Regions from separate parts of the Homo sapiens genome. Here regions 2 and 3 are each linked to region 1. Evidence: fine-mapped expression QTL. A gene starts in region 1. Each other region holds a variant in brackets. All regions are shown on one strand. Distances are from middle to middle.

The links. PIP is the estimated chance that this variant, and not a neighbour inherited with it, causes the effect.
Region 2: its variant is fine-mapped to the expression of ABCC2 in whole blood (TOPMed, PIP above 0.99).
Region 3: its variant is fine-mapped to the expression of ABCC2 in whole blood (TOPMed, PIP above 0.99).

Annotation. Positions count from the first base shown.
Region 1 is chr10:99,781,152-99,783,920 of GRCh38, reverse strand. It overlaps ABCC2 (ATP binding cassette subfamily C member 2), which reads right to left and starts at 1,281. Exons shown (of 32, transcript NM_000392.5): 1 at 1,044-1,281. The coding sequence starts at 1,076. RefSeq lists an enhancer at 1-83.
Region 2 is chr10:99,723,716-99,726,484 of GRCh38, reverse strand. COX15 (cytochrome c oxidase assembly factor COX15) reads left to right here. Exons shown (of 9, transcript NM_078470.6): 5 at 2,362-2,529. Among named protein-coding and RNA genes, the nearest start is that of COX15, 7.0 kb to the left of the region's middle. The variant A/C (reference allele first, on the strand shown) is at 1,195.
Region 3 is chr10:99,754,808-99,757,576 of GRCh38, reverse strand. CUTC (cutC copper transporter) reads right to left here. Exons shown (of 9, transcript NM_015960.3): 9 at 1,443-1,952. The coding sequence ends at 1,838. Among named protein-coding and RNA genes, the nearest start is that of CUTC, 24 kb to the right of the region's middle. The variant C/A (reference allele first, on the strand shown) is at 1,424.

The DNA of each region.
Region 1 (2,769 bases):
TGTTTTATATGATTATTTATACAGACTCTTTAAAGAATTGCTTGCGATGCCCTGACCAAGAAAGTTTGTCAGGTAGTTCTCAGAAAGAATTCTCAAGAGATGGCCTGTCTAGATACTATAGCCCATGAAGATCCACCTTGCCGTGGTATACACTCCTGGCCTCGAGGGTCTTGGGACCCAGGTCCTTTCTAAGACACGAGGTGCTGCCCAGGTGCTCTGCTATCTCATCCCTGCCCCTCTCACCTCTATATAAGGTTATCAAATGTTAGAATTCAGAAGAATCACTTAAGATACTTAAACTACATTTATTGCCCCAGGTGATTCTGATGCTGAGGCTAGGAGTTTGCAGATGATACTTTCTCACCAAACCCTTACTAAAATCACTAAATCTAAGGTCCTTTTTTGTTTTCTATTCCACTAGACCTTTGATACTGTTGATTGGCCCCTATCTTGAAATTTTTTGCTATCTATGACTCCGTAATGTTACACTGTTCTTGTTCACCCTCTAAGTGGTGTCTCTTCTTTTCCTTAAAAACAATATTACCCAACTCTAGTTGTTCAAAAATTATTTCAATGCTCATGATGCCCAAAGTTGCATCCCTAGACTCAACTTCTAGTCCATATCATTAGTTGCCAGTTCTAGAACTTATCATTATCATTTCAACATCAACATGTCTCAGCAAGACTCAGTCACGGATCTTCTCTTCCTTCTACTAGCAAAGTATGCAACAACAATTCTCCTTCCTCACACGGATTAAATTGGAAGGTTTTTACCTGTTTCTCTTTAGAGAAGGCAATTTTGCGACTAGCTAGTACAAGAGTCTGATATAAAAAAACATATGACAGAGAATAATTTGCATTACATTTCCCAGATCTTATATCCTCTGGAGATATTATGAATTATGCTTTCTAAAAAGCCTGAGCTTTAGACCAATTGCACATCTAACATTTCTGGTTCTTGTTGGTGACCACCCTAAGTTAACTAACTACCACTTGTTCTGAGTCTGAGAAGAGTCAATATGAAGATAAATGTAATTTCTCACCCAAAAAGTAGAGTTGCAGAACTTCTCCAGCATGATTCCTGGACTGCGTCTGGAACGAAGACTCTTCTATTAATATGATTGTGTTGTTTCTTCTTTACTTGTTTCATCAAAGAAAGTGGAACAGGAATTATCTACCATTCTGATGTTCTCCGTAAAGGATGACCTTTCATCCCAACCATTTAATCGTTAACCTTGCCTAGATGCATGTTACATTGAAACAGTGGATGGACATGTGACTAAAAAGCCCTAGGGACAGGGAGACTCACCAGTTCCCAAAGTACAAGAGGCCTCTGTAGGAGTGGCCATACATAAAAGGAACCACTGAAAGATGTCAACAGAGCTGGCCAACAAATCAAGAGTGCACAGTCTTTCATTTTCCTAAGGACATATGACCCACAAAGGGCAGCATCAGTAGAGGGGCAGGCACCCCTAAATGTGCAGTTTCGCTTCTGCTGCAAGATCTTAGAGTTTATAGAAATGTGAAATATCCTTCTTCCTTAGATTTTTAATTAAAAATATAGAATCTAAAACATGGTTTAAACATGATGTAAACTTTCTTTGAAGAAGTCAGGTTATAAAATAGCTTATCCAGTGTGAGCCTATATGTTATATACATAATACAGGCTTTCAAAAGTTCTATTTGCCTGAGAGGTAGTATGCCAAATGGGAATGAAGCCTTTGCCAGGCATTGTAAATATGATATCATGATAAAACATCAGGGCCAGAGGAGAGGGGTGATTCTGTAAACAGAGTGGTGGCATCAGTCGCTAGAAACTGTCATCGACCCAACCTTTTCTTTTTTTGTTATTGTTTTTTGTTTTTTGAGACAGGGTCTTGGTCTGTTGCCTGAGCTAGAGTGCAGTGTTGCCATCATGATTCATTGCAGCCTTGACCTCATGGGTTCAAGCGATCTTCCTGCCTCAGCTTCCTGAGTAGCTGGGACTACAGGCACATGCCAACAAGCCCAGCTAATTAAAAAAATGTTTTCTGTAGGGACGGGGTCTCACTATGTTGCCCAGGCTGGTCTCAAACTCCAGGCTTCAACAATCCTTCTGCCTTGGCCTCCCAAAGGGCTGGGATTGCAGGCATGAGCTACCGTGCCCCACCTGACCCAACCTTTTGTACTGTCACTTAAATTGCTTTAAGAACATGCTTTTTTCATGATATCATGAACCACCCATGCGGTATCCTAGCTAAAACATAACCACCCATGCAGTATCCTAGCTAAAAAAAATTGGCCTTAAATCTGGTCAAATTCTAGATCTAACTACCGGATTATAAGAAACACAGGAACATGCTAAAGGACTCCATTGGAATGCAATTGTCAAAATCCAGAATGTGGGAGATTCTATAGTGCAAATGATTCCATTTTTTAATAAATAAATTAAAAGAAGGAAAGGAGTCAAAGGAACTTACAAATTACAAGAGAATCAAGAGGCATATCAGCCAAATGTGAATTGTATGGACCTTGTTACTGATTTTAAAAGTCAAGTATACACATAAAAAAAATGAAAAGGCAGCATTCAGTGTGGGAGAAAATATTTGCAGACCATATAACTGATGAAGAGTTAATATCCACAATATACTATAAGGAACTCATACAACTCAATAGCAAACATACACTAACAAATTAAAAAGTGGGCAAAGGACTTGAACAGACACTTTTCCAAAGAAGACATATAAATGGCCAACAGGTATATGACAACTGAATCAACTTCACAAGTCA
Region 2 (2,769 bases), 57 kb after region 1:
ACCTAACCTCTGAAAGCTATGATTTCTTTACCTGTAAATGGGGATAATAACAGTGCCACCATGTACAGTCGTGTAAATATTAAATGAGATAATCCATATTTAAAGTACTTAGCTTAGTGCCTGGAATCAGTAAAGCACTCAGTAGTATATTTTCATGTGCTGCAAGATGTAGTTTGTTTCCCATCATGGGTGTCTCCCTAGGTTCTTGTCTCTCCTCTTTTTCTAACTTGTCTGCTATAGGAAAGAGGGATCCCTGTGCTAGAATGCCACAGAAGCATACAGGAAAATTCCAAAAGAGAGAAACACTTTGTGGGATGAAGGATTGTAGAATACCCATGTAGCTGAGAGATATTCAGATATAAATGGCAATTAAAATCACGTAAGTTGAGCGCCTCTTAAGGAAAGACTCCCACAGTTAACAGGTTAGTACTGCTAGAATGATGAAAAAAAAAAAGTTGGGTGAAACTGAGCAACAAATTAAAAGAGAAGACACATAGGAGTATTTGGGTCAAGGTTTAGAGATCCTAAAGGAGATTATCAGGGCATCAAAGAAACATCAAAATTTAATCAGGAGGAAGCTAATTGGTTAATTTAACTCAGAAGTGGTAAGAAAATGAGTCAGTTAGAAGGGATTAAGGCCGGGTGCAGTGGCTCACACCTGTAATCCCAACACTTTCGGAAGCCAAGGTGGGGGATCAGGAGTTCCAGACCAGCCTGGCCAACATGGTAAAACCCTGTCTCTACCTAAAATACCAAAATTAGCTGGGCATGCTGGCGTGGGCCTGTAGTCCCAGCTATTTCGGAGGCTGAGGCAGAAGAATTGATTGAACCGGGGAGGCGGAGGTTGCAGCGAGCTGAGAGGTTGCACCACTGCACTCCAGCCTGGGCAACAGAGCAAGACTCTGGCTCAAAAAAAATAAATAAAGAAAGAAGGGATTAAGGAGGGAGATGAGAGAGAAGAAATAGAGGCAGCAGAAACAATAATCAAAGTCTAATAGTAACCAGAGAAAGGCATGTAGAACAAAATGAAAGTTAACATTTTAGAATTAGAAAAACAAGCCAACACTGAAAACACTATTAGGGAGGCAGAAATTAAAGATGTCAGATAAGGTATGGGAGAAGAAAGTGGGCTAGTGAATCAACTGTGTACGTCTTCATCTTTCAATGTCTCTTGCAGATGAAATCAAGGTAATT[A/C]GAATATCCAGGGTAATCTTGAAAGGGGAGAGAAATGCCCAAAAAGATTTCCTGAAGAGTATATATTTAGAAGTGGCAGAGTCCACCTCTTTGACCTGATTCTACTGGCAAGTGGGAGTGAAAGGGCTGTCTTATTTCATATGATTGGAACTAACAATTGTTTGGTTAATTGAAAAAGCCAGTTAAAGCAGAGAATCATAGAATATGATACATAACATAAACTTTTAAACTTAAATCTGTACGTTCATTACCAACTTTTACAAAATCAAGGCCTTTTCTTTGACTATGCGTCCCCAGATTGGCATTCAACTGCAGGTTTCTTATATCCCCATAAACTGTGGTTTTGCTTAAAGCGGAGTGGGAACTTAGATATTTGCAAAGCGATCTGCATGCAAAACCTTATTGATTTTTATGATTTTCCCCTGAAACTTTTATAATTGTCTTATTCCAACCTAACTTGACAGTAGATGTTTTTAAGCATTTACCTTTATTAAGTTTCTCCAAAACATTCAATCTAGTTTTATGAGATATATCCATGGACCTTTTTTTTTTTTTAAAGCTCATCAGCTACTGTTAGTGTTAGTGTATTTTATGCATGGCCCAAGACAATTCTTCCAGTGTGGCCCAGGGAAGCCAAAAGATCAGACACTTCTGATCTAAATAGTAGTTAAGTATTAATGGTGATATGTGAAGAACTGTGGATAAATCATGAATCTTGGGACACTGCGTATTGGGGAGGGTATGGAAAGAGGAGGGGTGGGGTAGAGAGTACTCCTGATAGCTCATTTCCTCAGTAAAGTTGAACAGATCAGGCCGGGTGTGGTGGCTTACGCCTGTAATACCAGCACTTTGGTAGGCTGAGGTGGGCGGATCACGAGGTCAAGAGATTGACACCATCTGGCCAACATGGTGAAACCCCATCTCTACTAAAAATACAAAAATTAGCCAGGCGTGGTGATGCGCAACTGTAGTCCCAGCCACTTGGGAGGCTGAGGCAGGAGAATCACTTGAACCTGGGAGGCGGAGATTGCAGTGAGCCAAGATCCCGCCACTGCACTCCAGCCTGGTGACAGAGTGAGACTCTGTCTCAAAAAAACAACAAAAAAAAGAAAGTTGAACAGATCATTTTAACCTTGTTTTGTTTGCTTCATCTCTTGGGGGTTCTAGGGTCTGTTGGGATGGTATATGGTGAAAAGTGGACTAGAAGAAAAATCAGACTCCCATGACATCCCTCGGGTCAGTCAGTACCGCCTTGCTGCCCACCTGGGATCAGCCCTGGTTCTTTATTGTGCCAGCTTGTGGACCTCACTGTCACTGCTACTCCCTCCGCACAAGGTAAGAGTTGTGTGCAAATATCTGTGTTCAAGACCCCGCTTTTGGTTCTTTTGGATATATATCTAGAAGTAGAATTGCTGGATCATATAGGAGTTGAATATTTTGCCAACATTTTCTATTGGCAAAGGTGAAACAAATTGAAAAATAGAGTGGGAGGGAGTACCAACAACAAGAAATATCCCAGTCGCTTTACCTCTGACTCCTAGAAGGGATGGTGGATGGCAAAGTGAGAAAGATCAG
Region 3 (2,769 bases), 26 kb after region 1:
AGTCCAAAGATTAATAAATATTTAATATAAATAATTCTTTGTAAGACAGGAAAAGATGTGAATACCATCCTATTTCAGTATTTGGATTTCTTAAAACATCTGCATTATTTTTGTACTTCTGGATAATGTTCATATGATGTATTCCTTAATAGGACACATTTTAAGCAAAATAAGTTCACATTAAATCCATTTTATATCACATTTTTACTGCTTTCGCTTTAACTATGACTATGCCTTTAACCATGACTTTCTCCCTTGTCAGTACCTTATCCTAGTTCAGTGTTTCTTGACTATCATGTCTAAGGAGATTTTTTGGTCACTCCTTTTCCCTAAACACTCCTCTCTCCTGAAATTTTAATACCATAAATACACTGTATATTTGTTATGGACTGTATGTATATCTTGCTTTATACATAAAGAGGGGTTTGGATCATAATCCCCAAAGACACAATCCTGAATGCTATAATCCTGAATGTTGAAATCCTGAAAGATCAAAGTCCCTAAAATCTAGGCTGGGTGTGGTGGTTCAAGCCTGTAATCCCAGCGCTTTGGGAGGCTGAGCCAGGTAGATCATGAGGCCAGGAGTTCCAGATCAGCCTGGCCAACATGGCGAAACCCCATCTCTACTAAAAATATAAAAAATTAGTAGGGCATGGTGGCACACACCTGTAATCCCAGCTACTCAGGAGGTTGAGGCAGGAGAATCACTTGAACCCGGGAGGTGGAGGTTGCAGTGAGCCAAGATTGTGCCACTGCACTCCAACCTGGATGACAGAGTGAGACTCTGTCTCAAAAATAAATAAATAATAAATAAAGGCAAGACTCTTCATATAAACATTCATTAGTACACAATCTGTGCATGTTATTCAGAGGCTTCCTGGCCAAGGGGAAGCTCTTTATGCTTCAGTTACTCTCCTAAGATAGGAACAACAGTTCTATTATCAGTGTGTTGTTTGTGTAAAATGAGATTATAAATATGAAAGTGACAGACACAGGTAGTGATGAACTTTACCATTGGGACCTGGTCATAGGAAAAATATTTCATTACTAGAATCCATCTTTCCCATCTGTGACTTCAGTAGAAAGAAACTGCTGCTTTGATAACTTTCCTAACCCCCCTCTAGTTTTTACTATAGGTCTTTGAAAATTGTCAGATGGATCTTAGAGTTAAGCCATTTCTTTCCACTTGCAGGATAAGTAACCTGTTGAATGCCAGAGTTCACATCTGTCTTCGTAAGTCTAGGAACTTTGATATTCTGTTTCCAAGTCTGGGAATTTTCACACTGCACCATTTTACTCTGTACCCTTAGCATCTTGCCCAAAGCAGCATATCCAATCAGCACATAATAAAAAGAGAAAGTGTGGAACCAAATAAGACAACACTTTTCCTTTCATACTTGTAGGCTACAGGCTGTATTTAGTG[C/A]AAGAATAAGAGACTATACTGTAATAGTGGAAATTTTTATTTTACAAATGAAAAGTCAAAATACTGCTTTGAATTGACCCTTAAGTCACACTCTGAATTCATACCATGCAGTTAAAATTTTCCCAGTTCATCAATTAATTCCACTGAAAACAGACTAAGCTTCTGTCTATGGAAGAAGCACAGACCAGCTTTAACCATGATGACAATCACTGGTAAGACTAAGCAAAGGAAGTGACTGTATCTCTGTTTCAAATTCTTTTTCTTCTTGGGCACATTCTCCATGGCCATGTGAAACTTAAAACAAAGATTGCGACTGTCCTGGCCAGAGAAGAAGGTTAAAGCTGTGTCATAGAGAATTGCAGATTATAGTTCTACCTTCATCCTGTGATATCCATGTCTCTCAGAGAGGTCTGGCTACACCAGGATGTTCTTTGCGATAGCATTCAAAGTCCTTACTTTGGTCACATCTGTTACCTTTAGGGAATATTCTGAGCAAGAAAGTGAGGCTCCCATGGCAACAGATGAATTTCTGTAACAGAAATAATAAAGGAACAGATAATTATGTTATTAAATGGGCCCTCCTACTGCCGCTTCATTTTATAGACTATTTCATGATACAAGGGTAGGTCAAGTATGCTGGACTAGTATATTCCATAATTTTCATCAATTAATTACTTGAAACATCCAGCAGCTGAATCCACTGGACAGTATACTTGATTTTATATCTGGAATTGTAAGTTCTAAGGCTCTTGCTTCCTTTTTTTTTTTTTTTTCCTTTTTAAATTACAGGCATGTATCACCACGCCCAGCTAATTTTTTTGTACTTTTAGTAGAGATGGGGTGTCACCATGTTGGCCAGACTGGTCTCGAACTCCTGACCTCAAGTGATCCACCTGCCTTGGCCTCCCAAAGCGCTGGGATTACAGGTGTGAGCCACCTCACCCAGCCAGCCATCTTGCTTCTTTTACATTGTGTTTTTCCCAATTTATAAACAGAAATATTCAACTACTATTAAATTGTAAGAGTCTTCTTAAGTATTTAAAAAACCCCATATAATACTCACAATTTCTTAATGGTAATATAATTTCAAAATAACTGAAAACAGAGAACAAATGTGAGGGAAGACTAAGTACTAAAGGTAGGAGGGAGAAAAATGACTGACTCTTCCATCCTTACACCATAGTTATTAACTTTGCTACAGGAAATCATAGGCGAATGGGCACATGTGCATATCTGACTCATTTGAAGCTCAACTGCAGAATTTGTTTACTATTAACTGGTCTAAGTTCAGCAATGCCTTTACAAGGCAAGGTTCACCTATGTTCAAAGAGCCTGTTTATTTAAGA